2 linked regions of the Homo sapiens genome follow. The protein of the gene in region 1 purifies or fractionates together with the protein of each later gene. This does not show direct contact. Each region holds a gene or a part of one and is shown in the gene's direction. Other genes may lie near its edges. The genes, in order: SEC22C and SERPINA12.

Region 1 (4,024 bases):
TATTTTTTCTCCCTTTTTTTAAAATTAAAATTTCTGTTCTTAGGACGCTTTCCTTCTCTTCCACATACATCCTAGAATGGTTTATTCTTAAGAATTACCCAGGCCAGGTGTGGTGACTCATGCCTGTAATCCTAGCACTTTGGGAGGCCAAGATGTGTGGATCACTTGAGGCCAGGAGTTCAAGACCAGCCTAGGGAACCCCATCTCTATTATAATAAAAATACAAAAATCAGCTGATTATGGTGGTGCATACCTGTAGTCCCAGCTACTTGGGAGGCTTAGGCATGAGAATTGCTTGAACCCTGGAGGTGGAGGTTGCGGTGAGCTGAGATCACGCCACTGTGTTCCAGCCTGGGCAACAGAGAAAGACATTGCCTAAAAAAAATGAAAAAGCATTACCTGATTATGCAAAAAGAAATTTTCAACCCATGAAAATGCATTCATTTTTTAGAAAACAAGTCTCCAAGACCTTGGACATAGCCAGTGGCAGTTTCCTAGAGCTATGTTTTAGGACTGCAGGGATTGTACAGTTCCACCTCATTCCTTCAACTGTGTTCCTGGTTGGATAGCTCACTCCCTCCCTCTGTAGATTGAACCTTTGTCAGATTGATCCATGTTCAGTGATGTCCTTTTTTTAAAAAAAAAAAACAAAGCATTGAACCAAAATGCCGTTTCCACCTTTTGCAGAACAAGAATGGCCCCTTTTATGTGTGATAGTCATACACAAAATACCAGTCACTCTCCCTGCTGTGAGACCTTTCCCTGACTCAGAGATGCTTTGGAAGACATGATAAGGAGGGTGCCCAAGGGAAGAGTGGTGCTCAATGTAGTCGTGGCTCAGGAGAAACCAAAATAGTAAAAGCATGGCTTTCTCTCACCAGCTTGCTTGCCTGTCCTGGCTCCCTGAAGAAAAACTTCACTGGGGGGCCAGTCAGTCACGTTAGGGTCCCCTGTCTGCAGCCTGGCTGTCTGCAGCTTATGTGCAGCTCTTCTTTCTCTACTGCCAACAGCCTGGTCATTTCTGTCTATTTCTTTAACTTCTTTCAGATGTGCCATGCACTGATTCTTCCTGTGACATCTATTTCACTTTCCTTTAATCTTCCAAATCCTCACTTTCGTCCAATAATTAGCAGCCTAACCAGTGGGTCCACGCTTTACTGTAATGAATTCAGTTTAATCAGCTAATGTGAGAGAAATGACACTCTTCATGGAAGCTGTGGGAGGTGAATTTTGCATATGATCTAGTGGCCATTTTATCTCTGATTGGAATTCCTCTTCTGGTCTCATTTCAGTGTTATTTGTACCTGTTCTACAGTCCAGCCAGGACTATGAAGGTGGTGCTTATGCTGCTCTTTATTTGCCTGGGCAACATGTACCTGCACGGGCTGAGGAACCTCTGGCAAATCCTTTTCCACATAGGAGTGGCTTTTCTGTCTTCATATCAGATACTAACAAGGCAGCTTCAGGAGAAGCAGTCTGACTGTGGAGTATGAGGATGACACTGTGATGAATGGATTCTTTGATTTTCTTTTGAGGATCAATCTATGTTTCTCTTTCTGCTTCTCTACTTTACACTCCAGTTTCCATCCTTTTCAGCCAACTGGACTGAAAAACCAGGAATTGGGGATGTTAAACAGTTGCAGTGGAAGTCATGAGGTTGCTTGATACCCAGCCTTGGTTCTGTGCCAAGCATTACTGCAGGATCTCCAGCCAGTTCAGCACGTTTACCTAGGACAGCTGGATCTGGGGGCTCATCCAGAAAGAGCTTTATTGGAAGAGAGAAAGGAAATATTTTGGTCTTTTAAGTTGAATGATACAGTAAACCACTTGATTCAATAACACTGGTTTTAGTCATTGAGAGTTGTCTCCAAGGAACCACTTTAAAATCCAAATCAGCTTTCAGTCTAAACATAACTTGATTAGTTTTTTTTTTCAGAGGGTCAGTACAGGATGAATTAAAAACCTAAAAATATGGTTCATAAATGTAAGCTAGATAAATTTTGTTTACATTTTTTCAATATCTTAGGTTCGATATACCTTTGGAATATTTAATTATATTTTGGATATAAATTGGACTTCATTTAGGGTGAGGGCAAACTTAAGCTGAGAAAATGGTTAAGAAATCTGAGTTTATTTAATTTATATGTAACCTTTTATAGTGGTGGGACTGTTTGGGTACAGAGATGTTTTATATTTATTTGCAGGGTATATCCGAATATTTTAAAAATTAATTGAATAACCAGTACTTCTAGATGATAAGTTTGTCAGCATGAGCAGAAATGAGAATTTCAGGATTACTTACAATTGACCACAACCTGGAGTAGGTGAATGAACATGGATTCAGTGGCACTTTACAGATCCGCTTGGGAGGGGCTGCTGTCATCAGCCTTTTCAGTAGAGCTGAGTGCCTGTTGTTTTAATGATGATGACTACTGTACCCTGTGTACCTGTTCCCAGAGCGCCTCCAAAATTAATTACTCCTCTGCACCTTTCCCAGTCATCTTAATTAGCTTGAGGGCCTCATTTTTTATGAACAAGAGTTAAGTATCTGTTAACTTTTTAAAGCTTGATAGAGATATAATTAACACATACTCTGGAAAGTTACTCTCTTTCACTGTCAAAAAATTGATTGATCACAGTTTTCCAAAATATGGTTCTGGATAAGATCCCTTAGGTTTCCCGAAATTTCAGCCTGGCTTGTTTTGTACCACGCAGGAGGTCATTTTGGGAGTTTGCTCTTTGGATTGTTCTTGGTAGAAGTCTGGAATCTGAATAGTTCAACCACAGTTGCATGGAACACTTTGAGTGTTCAACTGCATTATGTGGTCTTGATAAATTTTTAAAAATCCTATTTTGATAGTTTTTAAAAGTGGAAAACCATTACAAGAGTTGAGTGGATAGGGAATGTAAGAATGTAGTTTTAGAAAAATTCAATTATATTTGGTTATCACTGGTATTGTATTGTTATTGAGCTACCTTGTTATCATTTTAAGAAAAATAAGTTTATATACTGGGAACTATGTTGGGAAAATGTTGCCATAGTAACTTTATTTTTTATAATAGAATTTTCTATTTTTGACCAAACATAAAATATTTGGATATGGGCCAGGCATGATGGCTCATGCCTGTATTCCCAGCACTTTGGAAGGCCAAAGCAGGAGACTCGGTTGAGGCCAGTAGTTTGAGACCAGCCTGGACAACATAGTAAGATTCATCTCTACAAAAAAAAAAATTAGCCGGATGTGATGGCACATGCCTGTAATCCCAGCACTTTGGGAGTCTGAGGCAGGAGGATCCCTTGAGTCCAGGAGTTTGAGGCTTCCATGAGCTATAATCACACCACTGCACCCCAGCCTGCATGACAGAGTGAAACCCTGTCTCTAAAAAGTCTGAATATGAAAATTATATTGGCAGCATACTCAGACATAAACTCCAAAGTTGTCTCTACACTGATTTCACATCTGCATAATTTTCTGCATACCCAGCAGGTGAATTTTCAGTTTTTCTGGGAGACAATTTTGAAGAGATGGTGAAATAGAATGGGAAGTTAAGGAGGGGAGGTAAAATGTTTTAAATGAGAAGAACAAAAAAGCTTTAAAAGTCAATAACACTTTGGGAAGCTGAGGTGGGCAGATCACGAGGTCAAGAGATCGAGACCATCCTGGCTAACATGGTGAAACCCCATCTCTACTAAAAATACAAAAATTAGCTGGGCACGGTGGCTTGTGCCTGTAGCCCCAGCTACTCAGGAGGCTGAGGCAGGAGAATCTCTTGAACCCGGGAGGTGGAGGTTGCAGTGAGCCGAGATCGAGCCACTGCACTCCAGCCTGGTGACAAAGCAAGACTCCGTCTCAAAAAAAAAAAAAAAAAAAGTCGGTAAGAACGGCTTAAAAATGGACTGTTTTCTTTTCCTATGTGGCATTGGGTTGCCATGTAGACCTGTACCCCAGGTGCTTTGGGCATCTGAGCCTATGATCCATATTCAGCAGGCAGTAAAGAAACGGTCCTTGAAGATGAGTCCTTC
Region 2 (2,845 bases), on another chromosome or scaffold:
ATGCAAGAAGACAAAGCAGGTGTCTGCCTTCTGTGCAGGCAGGCCTGTATGGCTTGTGCTGGCCTGCAGGAAATCTCAATGCTATTATTTTTCCCAACATAAAAGCTTCTCTTGACCTCTGCTTTCCCCCAGTTATTCCTCCATTTCGTCACTCCCCCTTTGCAGGTGAATACCATGAAGCAGTTGCCTCTGTTCACAGCCCCTAGTTCCTCTCATCCTCTCCTAAATCCACTCCAGTCCAGCTTCTGCACCCACTTCTCACAGAAAGCTCCCTTCCCAGGGTCCCAAGGGTGTCTGTGTTGCAGAGTGCAGTCAGTCTCAGGCCTCGCTCTTCGGCTGGTTTCTGTCCCCACCTCCTTAAGGCACTCTTCATTTGGCTTCCAGCTCTCCACTCTCACATCACCTCCCACCTCTCCCCTCCTCAATCTCCTTTGCTGGAGACCCCTCTCCTCCTCCAGGTCTCAGAGGTGAGTGTCTCAGGGCTCAGTTCCCAGCCTTCTTTTCTGTCTATACTTACCCCTGAGTGAGCTCACAGGCTAAGAGCTTTAAACACCATCTCTATTACCACGACTGCCATGCTTCCATCCCCAGCCCCTGTTCTCCCCCAAATTCCAGAGTCGTGGATCTTTCTGTTTACCCAGAATGTCCCCAGGATGTGTAATTGGAGCTTAGTGTCAACACATCCAGAATGACTTCCTGATCTGTCCCCAGAGAACCTCCCCAAGCCTGCCCATCTCAATCAGTGGTGACTCCATCTTTTTAGTTGCTCAAGCCAAAAACCTTGGAGTCACCCTGACCACCCTCAAATGCCTCATTCAGTCTGTCAGGAAACTCCTTTAGCCTACAGCAAACCACATCTGGAATTTGGTATCTTTCCGCCGTCTCTGTGGCTCCCAACATGTGACTACCACACTAGCTTCCAAATGGTCTCCCAGCATCAATTTTTGCCCATCCCCACTACACACACCACCACCACCAAGAGTATATTCTTAACAGAGGCAACAGAATGATCCTTTTAAATCCTAAGCAAGACTATGTCACTCCTCTGTTCAAAACCCGACAGTGACTCCCCATTTTATTCAGGAAAAAAAACCCCAATTTGTCTAACTCTCTTGCCTGCCTCAAGGTTTGCTCAAACTTTGGACCAATCCTCGATTCCTGCAAGTCAATCTATTTATTTTTTTCCATAGCACTTACTGCCTTCTGCATACCGCTAGTACATGTATGTAGGCTTAAGTGGTACTTTTTGTTGTGTTGATTCTATCACCTGTCTTCCCTGCTAGAACACACAGTCAGGGGCAGGGATCTTTGCCTGCTCTGTTCATAGATGCATCTCCAGCACCTAGAACAGCACCTGGTATACAGTAGAGATTTAATAAATGTTTGTTGAGTGAATGAATGAGTGGAAAGGTAAATTTGGGAGTCGTTGGGCCTGTTGATGATATTCAAAGCTGTGAGACTGAATGACATGTATGGGGATGGAGTGAAGGTGGAAAAGAGAAGGGGACCAAGGTCTGAGCCTGGAAGCAGCAGTGTCACCGGTAGAGATGGGAGGGGTGGAGCCCGACAGGGGCAGGAGTGGTGGGGAAGGAGGAGAAGCCTCAAGGGGTGGACCTGGAATGCTTCACCTTGGAGAAAGGGATTACCATCACGTGCGGCTCACTGAGAGCTGGCTCTGGGACGTGGGGCTGGTTGTCAACGGTGACTCTGGAAAGAGTTGCTTCCATAAAAAGTTGAGGTCAAAGAGCCGACTGGAGTGGACTGAGGCAATTGTGGGAGGGAGTGGAGATAGCTGCTATAAAAGGAAGAAAAGAAATGAGCTGGAAGCTGGAGAGGCTATTCAGGGCCAAGAGAGATCTCTTGGTGTTAGTTTTTGAGGATAGGGTCACTCTAGCATGAGGCCTCCTCCAGAGGAGGATCAAAGGGGCACTGTTTAAGGATGATGCAGGAGAGAGAGGACACATAGGCAGGAATGAGATCCTTGGGTAGGTGGGAAAATAGGGTGCAAGGCCAGGTGAACGGGAATCCAGGGTCTGCAGGTACCTCAGGAGAGCCTGGGCCCCAGGCTCCGGGCAGGAGGCTGATCGCGGTTCAGCCACAGAGGATGTGAAGCTGCTAGTTGGAGGGCAGGAGGATGGGCACCTGCTACGCACCAACTGTCTGCTGAGTGCCTTGTCTGCATTTGCCTTAGCACCCCTAGTGTCCCGCAGGAGCGACGGTGATCATTTTCCTTCTCACACAAGTGACTTAGAGAGGGAAGGTCACAGAGCTCATGAGAGGCAGAGTGGATTTGAACTCAGTTCTGTCTACCTCCAGATTCTGGGTGCCTTGTTCCCTCCAGTGTCAGGTCTTCTGGGGTCAGGATGGGCTCAGGGCTCAGGCATGGCAGCGACTACAGTGTGGACATCATCAGTGACTGTGGCTGAAGGGGCTCTGAGACGGGGGAACTTGAGACTTGAGAACACTCCCTGTAGAGGGCTCTGGGGCAGGTGTGCTGGGAGGCAGGGACACGGTTCAGAGAGCTTATGGTGTTTTGAAACCAGGGTCCCAGGGTTAAGGAGCCCCTCCTCATTCTGTGGATGGAGAGAGATTGGAGACCTTTGGGGCTGGGAGGACACATGTTTCATTGGTCATGTATCCTGAGGCTTGCCCTGCAACACAACAGGACTTGACCACTCACCCTTGTCGTGTCAATTCCCCAGGGTCGTAGACGTGTCTGTACCCAGACTCCACATGACGGGCACCTTCGACCTGAAGAAGACTCTCTCCTACATAGGTGTCTCCAAAATCTTTGAGGAACATGGTGATCTCACCAAGATCGCCCCTCATCGCAGCCTGAAAGTGG

Evidence for each region.
Region 2: the proteins of SEC22C (region 1) and SERPINA12 purify together in Homo sapiens (affinity purification with mass spectrometry; 3 studies listed by BioGRID and IntAct, with this or other methods). This does not show direct contact.

The regions. Positions count from the first base shown.
Region 1 is NC_000003.12:42,550,717-42,554,740, reverse strand, and holds part of SEC22C (vesicle-trafficking protein SEC22c), read left to right. Parts: intron 1-1,292; coding exon 1,293-1,493; 3' UTR 1,494-4,024. UniProt on the Homo sapiens protein: May be involved in vesicle transport between the ER and the Golgi complex.
Region 2 is NC_000014.9:94,489,625-94,492,469, reverse strand, and holds part of SERPINA12 (serpin A12 precursor), read left to right. Parts: intron 1-2,702; coding exon 2,703-2,845. UniProt on the Homo sapiens protein: Adipokine that modulates insulin action by specifically inhibiting its target protease KLK7 in white adipose tissues.